Linked DNA regions of Homo sapiens: region 2 is linked to region 1. Evidence: fine-mapped expression QTL. Tissue or cell type: tibial artery. Region 1 holds a variant in brackets; the other region holds the start of a gene. All regions are shown on one strand. Distances are between the middles of the regions.

Evidence for each region. PIP is the estimated chance that this variant, and not a neighbour inherited with it, causes the effect.
Region 2: it holds the start of CALCOCO2, and the variant in region 1 is fine-mapped to the expression of CALCOCO2 in tibial artery (GTEx, PIP 0.92).

Annotation. Positions count from the first base shown.
Region 1 is chr17:48,875,730-48,879,729 of GRCh38, reverse strand. It overlaps LOC105371814 (a long non-coding RNA gene), which reads left to right. Exons shown (of 4, transcript NR_135674.1): 3 at 385-466. Among named protein-coding and RNA genes, the nearest start is that of ATP5MC1, 15 kb to the left of the region's middle. RefSeq lists an enhancer at 539-638. The variant G/A (reference allele first, on the strand shown) is at 2,299.
Region 2 is chr17:48,829,437-48,833,436 of GRCh38, reverse strand. CALCOCO2 (calcium binding and coiled-coil domain 2) reads right to left here and starts at 2,402. Exons shown (of 13, transcript NM_005831.5): 1 at 2,359-2,402. RefSeq lists a silencer at 1,987-2,146 and an enhancer at 1,517-2,398.

The DNA.
Region 1 (4,000 bases):
GTACAGGTGAGCACCACCACACCTGGCTCACTTCCTGTTTTTTGAGTGGGAGTTTCACTATCTGGTCCCACCTGCCTCTCTAGCTGGGTCTTGACTGTTCGGTACTATGCATGCTCCAGCTTTGCCACACCTCTTGCTGGCCCTCAACAAGCCTGCATTTCTACACTGCCATTCCTTCTGCCCCGAATGCCTTTCCTCCCCAGCACTACATGGCAAACTTCTACACATCCTTCAAGGCCCATCTTGAATGCCACCTTCCCTGTGATGACCTCCCCTATTGCCCCAGACTTATTTCCTTGCCTTCAGTGCTCCCATAGAACTTGGTGCACATCTACTCCAGTAGTCATTGCACAGAACAGTAATCATTTGTTTATGTGTTTGCAGTCACTGCTACAACATGGTGACCTCCTGGAGAACAGGGACGTGTGGTGTTTCTCTTTGTATTTGTCTTTTGTTCCCAGAACAGGTAAGTACACGGTGCCGGGTATAGGTAGGTACTCGCTCAATAAATGTGAATGAGTGAACGAGTGGTGGGGTTGATCTTATCCTGAAAGAGGGAGCTCCCCACCTGCACTTTCCTGTAGCAATCTCTAGAGGGCAGTCTCACACCATGCTTGTCTTCTCTAGCCTCCGCCCAAGTTGCTTTTTTTCTACCATAGACAGCTCAGATAGATATGGGTGGGTGGATAGATGGATGGAAGGATGGACAGATGGACGAATGAACGAACGGATGGATGGATGGGTGGATGAATAGATAGATAGGGTGGGCATGGTTCACATGGGCTCTGGAGTTGACAAGCTCTGGGACCAGGGAATCCAACCAAGTCAGCCTAAGCACTGGAGGGACTGCTGGCCCATCCCTTAGACACAATGGCTTAGGAGCTAGGGCTTATTATTGAAACCTGGAAAAAAGTTATTGTTTTCAAAATAAAAAAGACAGTTGCAAAATGGCATTGGATAAATATTGAAATAAATGGCTACAAAACAAAATCTCAACCAACTGCAACTCAACTCAGTTTGTATATATAGTTTATGTATAAACCACATTTCAGGCAGGGCATGGTGGCTCACGCCTGTAATCCCAGCACTTTGGGAGGCTGAGGTGAGCGGATCACCAGAGGTCAGGAGTTTGAGACCAGACTGACCAACATGGGGAAACCCCATCTCTAATAAAAATACAAAAATTAGCCAGGCGTGGTGGCACTCCAGCCTGGGCGACAAGAGCGAAACTCCATCTCAAAAAGAAAAAAAAAATTCTGTGGGATGTCAGTGCATTTTAATATTTTTGACATGATGTGGGCACTCCTTAAAGTGTCAAGGGCCCTTGACTTCTTGGAAAGGCCCTGCAAGGAGCAAGCAGAATGGAACCCAATACTCCCCACCAGAGGGCTCAGGACTCTGTTCATTATAAGTCCCAGTGCTGAGTCTGAGGCTGCAGGTCCAGTCCCTCTTCCTGCTGAGGGCTCTGGAGCCAAGCCCACGAAGATAACATTCAGTAACACAGGCTGCCCTCAACCACAGTCTTTCCTAATCTCAAGGTAAGATGGGAGAGGGGTGGTGGTATTTCATTTACTTAAGCTCCTACATGGGGGAGATACTGAATAGGAAGAGGCTGTCTCCTGGGACTGCTGGCTCGGGGGTGGAATGGACAGGAGACAAGAACAGAACCAAGTGTCGTGTACGCATGCCTGTAGTCCTGGCTACTCAGGAGGCTGAAGGTGGGAGGATCACTTAAGCCTGGGAGATTGAGGCTGCAGTGAGCCGAGATTGCACCACTGTACTCCAGCCTAGGTGACAGAATGAGAGCCTGTCTCCAGAAAAAAAAAAAAGTCAAGATTCAAGGGCATCTGATGTCAAACCTAGTGCTCTTAATCACTACATCATAATCATACCCTCTTTCAGAGTGACCTGCCCAATTTCACAAAGCTGTTAATCAGGTGGCAGGGAAGAACACGTATTGAGTGCTTACAATCAGCGTGTGTCAGGCGCTGCTCTAAATGCTCTACCCATTTTAACTCATCTAGCTGTAGCAGAGACTATAATTGTCAATGCCATTTTACAAATGGGGAAACCAAAGCCAAGAGCGGTTGAGTGACTTGTCTAAAGTTGCCACCAGACAGTCTAGTTCCAGAGTCTGGGCTCTTCACCATGATGACCTACTAGCCTGTCTACTTTATGGAGGGACAAGGTTTGGGGTTGTCAAAACTCGGGGTCAAAAATGACAGGACAAATGGAATAGAGGATGGGCAGGATGGATGCAGGGGTATGTGAGGTATGTGAAAGAGGTGAAACATGAAG[G/A]AGAACCCAACCACAGATGTTCACAGATGTTCTCTGCTGTTTCCTCAGTAGGAACTCAATGCTGAGTTCCTATCGAAACTACTGACAGCATATCTCCCCAAATATCATTTCCTTAAAAGGCATTTTGTCAGTGTCCTTTTTTTTTTTTTTTAAGAAATGGCGTCTCACTTTGTTGCACAGGCTGGAGTGCAGTGGTGTGATCTTGGCTCACTGCAACCTCAGCCTCCCAGGTTCAAGCAATTCTCCTGTCTCAGCTTCCTGAGTAGCTGAGATTACAAGCACTTGCCACCACACCCAGCGAATTATTGTATTTTTAATAGAGCTGGGGTTTCACCATGTTGGCCAGGCTGGCCTCGAACTCCTGACCTCAAGTGATCTGCCCGCCTTGGCCTCCCAAAGTGCTGGGATTACAGGCCATGCTCAGCCTGTCAAAGTGTCTTACTTAGCAAATACAGCTGCTTTGCAAACAGGGGTTCCTTTTTCCCTTGTGACTAGGGCCACTGTTCTGCCAGAATGGCTATCTAGTCCTCCAGATAGGGTTAGGAGCCACTTTGTTGAGAAGGATATGAGCAAGATGGCTGTGCAGGGGGAATGACTGGTGTGGACTTCATCAGAGATTGAATTAAGTGATGGAAAGGGAACGTTCCATGGCTCTCGTCCCTAATAGAAATCTATTCAGGGTCTTTGGCATCAGCACTAGGTTTCCTGACTCAAAGGGAAGTCATAAGGACAGGTTTACAGAGGTAGAATGATCCCATTTGGAGAAAGGAGAACTGGAAAGAGACACAGAGCATCTGTAATTAAGTGCAAGAGCTCTGAAGTTGGACTGCCTGAATTAAAATCCCAACTCTGTAGGCAGGGCATGGTGGCTCACACCTGTAATCCCAGCACTTTGGGAGGCTGAGGCTGGCAGATCGCTTGAGCCCAGGAGTTTGAGACCAGCCTGGGCAACATGGTGAAACCCCGTCTCTACAAAAAATACAAAAATTCTGGCAGAGCGCGGTGGCTCATGTCTATAATCCCAGCATTTTGGGAGGCCGAGGTGGGTGAGACCAGCCTGGCCAACAAGGTGAAACCCTGACTCTGTCTCAAAAAAAAACAACAACCAAAAAACACAAAAATTCACTGGCCATGGTGGTGCACACCTATAGTCTCAGCCACTCAGGAGGCTGAGGTGGGAAGATTGCTTTAGCCCACAAAGTAGAGGCTGCAGTGAGCTGAGATCATGCCACTGCACTCCAGCCTGGGCAACAAAGCAGGACTCTGTCTCAAAAAAATAAAAAAATCCCAACCCTGTATGACCATGCGTGATTTACTCAACCTCTCTCCGTGACCCATCTGTGAAATGGATTTATTCATAACTTTGTTAATTATCACATATTAACGATTAATGTTTTGTTGTGGGGGTTAAAATCATCAAATATGAAGTGCTTAACACAGTGCTTACCATATAAGCACTCAATGCCTACTTTTTTTTTGTGAGACGGAGTCTGGCTCTGTTGCCCAGGCTGGAGTGCAGTGGCGCGATCTCGGCTTACTGCAAGCTCCGCCTCCCGAGTTCACGCCATTCTCCTGCCTCAGCCTCCGGAGTAGCTGGGACTACAGGCGCCCGCCACCATGCCCAGCTAATTTTTGTATTTTTAGTAGAGATGGGGTTTCACCATGTTAGCCAGGATGGCCTCGATCTCCTGACCTTGTGATC
Region 2 (4,000 bases), 46 kb after region 1:
ACTACATGCATGTGCCACCATGTCCGGTTAATTTTTGTATTTTTAGTAGAGACGGGGTTTCACTATGTTGGCCAAGTTGGTCTCTAACTCCTGACCTCGTGATCCACCCACCTTGGCCTCCCAAAGTGCTGGGATTACAGGCGTGAGCCACTGTGCCCGGCCTTCTGCTTACTTTTCTTTCTAAACGATTAGCAATTAGCAAAAATGGATGAATTGATTTGAATCCCGTTTCTCCCTGGCTATGGCAGAAATGCTTACACATAACCAGCCTTAAAGAATACCAGCAGTGGATACTATGGGTGTGTGTAGATGGCCCTGAAACAGGTAGCAAAAGCAAAGACACAATCACTGGTCTTCAAATTATCGAGCCATTTGCTCTAGCCCAAAATTTCCAAGTTAATTCTAGACCCTTACCTAAAATATGAAAATGTTTCAGAGTGTCTTACAAAAATTTTACACCCCAGGAGGCCTTTATTACTACTCATTAACAATTGTTTGAATTTGCTGTCCAGCTTTTTCTAAACAGGCCCTCATCTCACATCCACACCACCATAGTGCTGGCGCCAGTTCTAGGGGAAGATGGAAAAAATAGTTCTGGGACATCAGGTGCGGGCAACTGGAAACTCTGAAAGGCTCAAAGCTGTGTACTAATCTCCATTTTACTGAGACCATCCACTTTTCCCTTGACAGGGGTGATTCTAACATGCCATGTCCCTGTGACATGGGCAGTGACAGTGTTTGAAGTGTGGTGGAAAGGGGACTAGGCTAACAGCCAAGGGAGCTGGGTTCCTATCTTAGTTCTGCCACTCTGAGAGCTTGGCCAAGTCACAGTACCCTTTTCTGGCCTGTTTCCTCATCAGCAAAATGCATGGCTAAGGCTAGAAAATCTTCAAGGACCTTGCCTGATATAATGATGATCCTAAGTGAAGGAAAAAAGAAGTGAAAGAGTTCATTTAACTCTCTTTTCATCTAAAAATAATTAAGGATACATGACATTCTATCAATACATACTGCCAAATTAAATTTTTGTTTGTTTGTTTTTTGAGACGGAGTCTCACTCTGTTGCCCAGGCTGGAGTGCAGTGGCGCCATCTCGGCTCACCGCACCCTCCGCTGTCTGGGTCCAAGCGATTCTCCTGCCTCAGCCTCCCAAGTAGCTGGGATTACAGGCGCCCGCCACCACGCTCCACTAATTTTTGTATTTTTAGTAAAGACAGCGTTTTGCTATGTTTGCCAAGCTGGTCTTGAACTCCTGACCTCAGGTGATTCTGCCCGCCTGGGCCTCCCAAAGTGCTGAGATTACAGGCGTGAGCCACCGCGCCTAGTCAGCCAAATTAAATTTTTAAAGAGCCACAGATGTACTATCTGACTCGAAAGACAATATGACCTGTTAGTGCCAGGTAACTCAGGATTATCGACTACCTTTTTCAAGGCCCTTTCCATTCCACAGCTGTCATGTCTGCCAAAGGATAGAGTTTCCAGGTCCCTTGAAAATACCTGGGAAACTGAGCCATCTGGATATTCCTTAATCATGTATTCTCCACAAGCTACAAAGACCTACCACATAAAGTCCTTTACTTGCAATGGTGTTTCCAATAATAGAATAAGTTATATTATCCATATTTTACTCAGCTCCAACCATGGTCACTTGTTGGCTTGCATGTGAAGCAAGAATCCAAGTGATAGAAAAGAGTTAACACGTCCAGTGGGGTTGAAATAATATACGAGTGGGAACATTAGCTCCCAAACTAAGCTGGGTCAGTGGTGGAGGGGCAATGGATTAACTGTAGAGGCAGGTCACGACACCGTCTTTCCTCCTGCCTAGAACGTCTTCTCCGACAGCTGCAGCATGCAAAAGGCAAGGCGCTTCAGGGATCAAACCTACTCGTAAAGGGGGACACTGAGGCCCAAAAAGAAAGTAACTTGCTCAGGGTGACGCAACAAGGCTCCACCTCCGCCTCGAAGCCAACGGCGATGACATCCAGGCGAGGGATTACGGAACCACCACAGCCTGGGCCCGCGGGAGGGGACGGGACGCCACGACCCGTGGGGCGGCAGCCGCCGCCTCAAGACCCTCGCCGCCGCCAGGGGTGTCACTTCTTCCCGAGGAGCCTCCCACCCTGCCACACAGCACTGCAGCGCTGCCCTCCGCAAGACAAAACTGCCCCGCAACCCTCCCGGGCCGCGGGAGGGGCTCCAGGGCCTTCAGAACACCACTCCCACTATCACCCCAGAGGGTGAACTGCGGTGAGAACCGAAACTTGCCACACCTCTACCCCCGTGGCCCCTTCTCAGGACTGCAAGTCTGAATGTGGGCACCCCGAGGGCCTAACTGCCCCTTTCCACTTGAGGCACTCACCAGGGACAGCAACCAGCAGCGGCGCGACAGCAACAGGGCAGAGTGGGACGGGGGCGGGGCTAAGCACCCAAGGGAGAGCCCGTCCCGCCTGCCCCGCCCACACGTCACAACGGTCAGCAAGCCCCGCCCCCGCGCGGCGCTTGCTGGGACTTGTAGTGTTCAGGTGACCGGGCCCCAGGAGCGGTCTTCTGCCTTTGATGGCTCTCCTAAGTCCTGAGCAGCAATCTCACCGAAATAAACCTACTTCATCCCCTGGAAGAAGCTGTTTACTTTTCTTTTTTTTCTTTTATACCTTTATTTCTTTTTTCTTTTTCTGTCGTCCAGGCTAGAGTGCCATGGTGCGAACACGGCTTACTGCAGCCCCGACCTCCCGGGCTCAGGTGATCCTCCCACTTCAGCCTCCTGAGTAGCTGGGACAACCACGGTGCCCATACGGCGCCCGCCACCACGCCAGGCTAATTTTTGTATTTTTAGTAGAGATGGGGTTTTGCCATGTTGCCTAGGCTGGTCTTGAACTCCTGGGCTCAAGAGGTCCAGCTGCCTCGGCCTCCCAAAGTGTTGGGATTACAGACCTGAGTCATCGCGCCTGGGCTACATCTTTATGTCTTTCTTCCCTGAATGAGAAAGCTTTATACATTTGAAGGGCCATTAAGAGGTCATCTTCATTTTTCTCCTGGGTCCACTTAACACTACTTCACGAAGAGTCTTTATTTTTTTTGAGACAAGGTCTCACTCTGTTGCCCAGGCTGGTGTGCAGCGGGGCGATCTCGGCTCAGTGCAACCTCTGCCTCCTGAGTTCAAGCTATTCTCGTGCCTCAGCCTCCCCAGTAGCTGGGATTACAGGCACCCGCCACCATGCCCGGCTCATTTTTTTGTATTTTTAGTAGAGACGGGGTTTCACCATGTTGGCCAGGCTGGCCTTGAACTCCGTCTCAAAAAGAAAAAAGAGAATAAACTCATGGCCAGGCACAGTAGCTCACGCCTGTAATCCCAACATTTTGGGTGGCCGAGGTGGGAGATCTCTTGAGCCCAGAAATTTCAGATCATCCTGGACAAGATAGGGAGACCCTGTCTCCACAAAAAATAAAAAAATTAGCCGGGTGTGGCGGTGGGCCCCTGTAGTCCCAGCTACTCAGGAGGCTGAGGTGGTAGGATCACTTGAGCCTGGGAGGTGGAGGCTGCCATAAGCCATGATCACACCACTGCACTCCAGTCTGGGAGACAGAGCGAGACCCTGTCTCAAAAAAAAAAAAAAAAAAAAAAAAAAAGAATAAACTCAGTAAGAAAAGAATTCTGCTAAGTCAATTTAAAGAAAATCCCCCATCCTTAATATCTAATAACCCTGGCCTGCCTTCAACAAGAGTCCTGTTAAGTTGGTTTAACAAGAATCTCCTTTTAGTAATTTTCCATGCAGTGACCCCTCACTCTGCTTGTTGGCTATAAATCCCACTTGTCATTATTGTATTCAGAGTGCAGCATAATCTCCCCTTTGGTCCTGAATAAATTCTTCCTTGCCATTTTAACAAGTTTCAGAATATTTTTTTCTTTAACATCCAGAAGATGTTAAATGCTGTATATGCTGTCTATGAAAGATTAAATTTGGAAGTGCCCCTTCTTCCACTGTTTAAATGTGGAAAGAAAT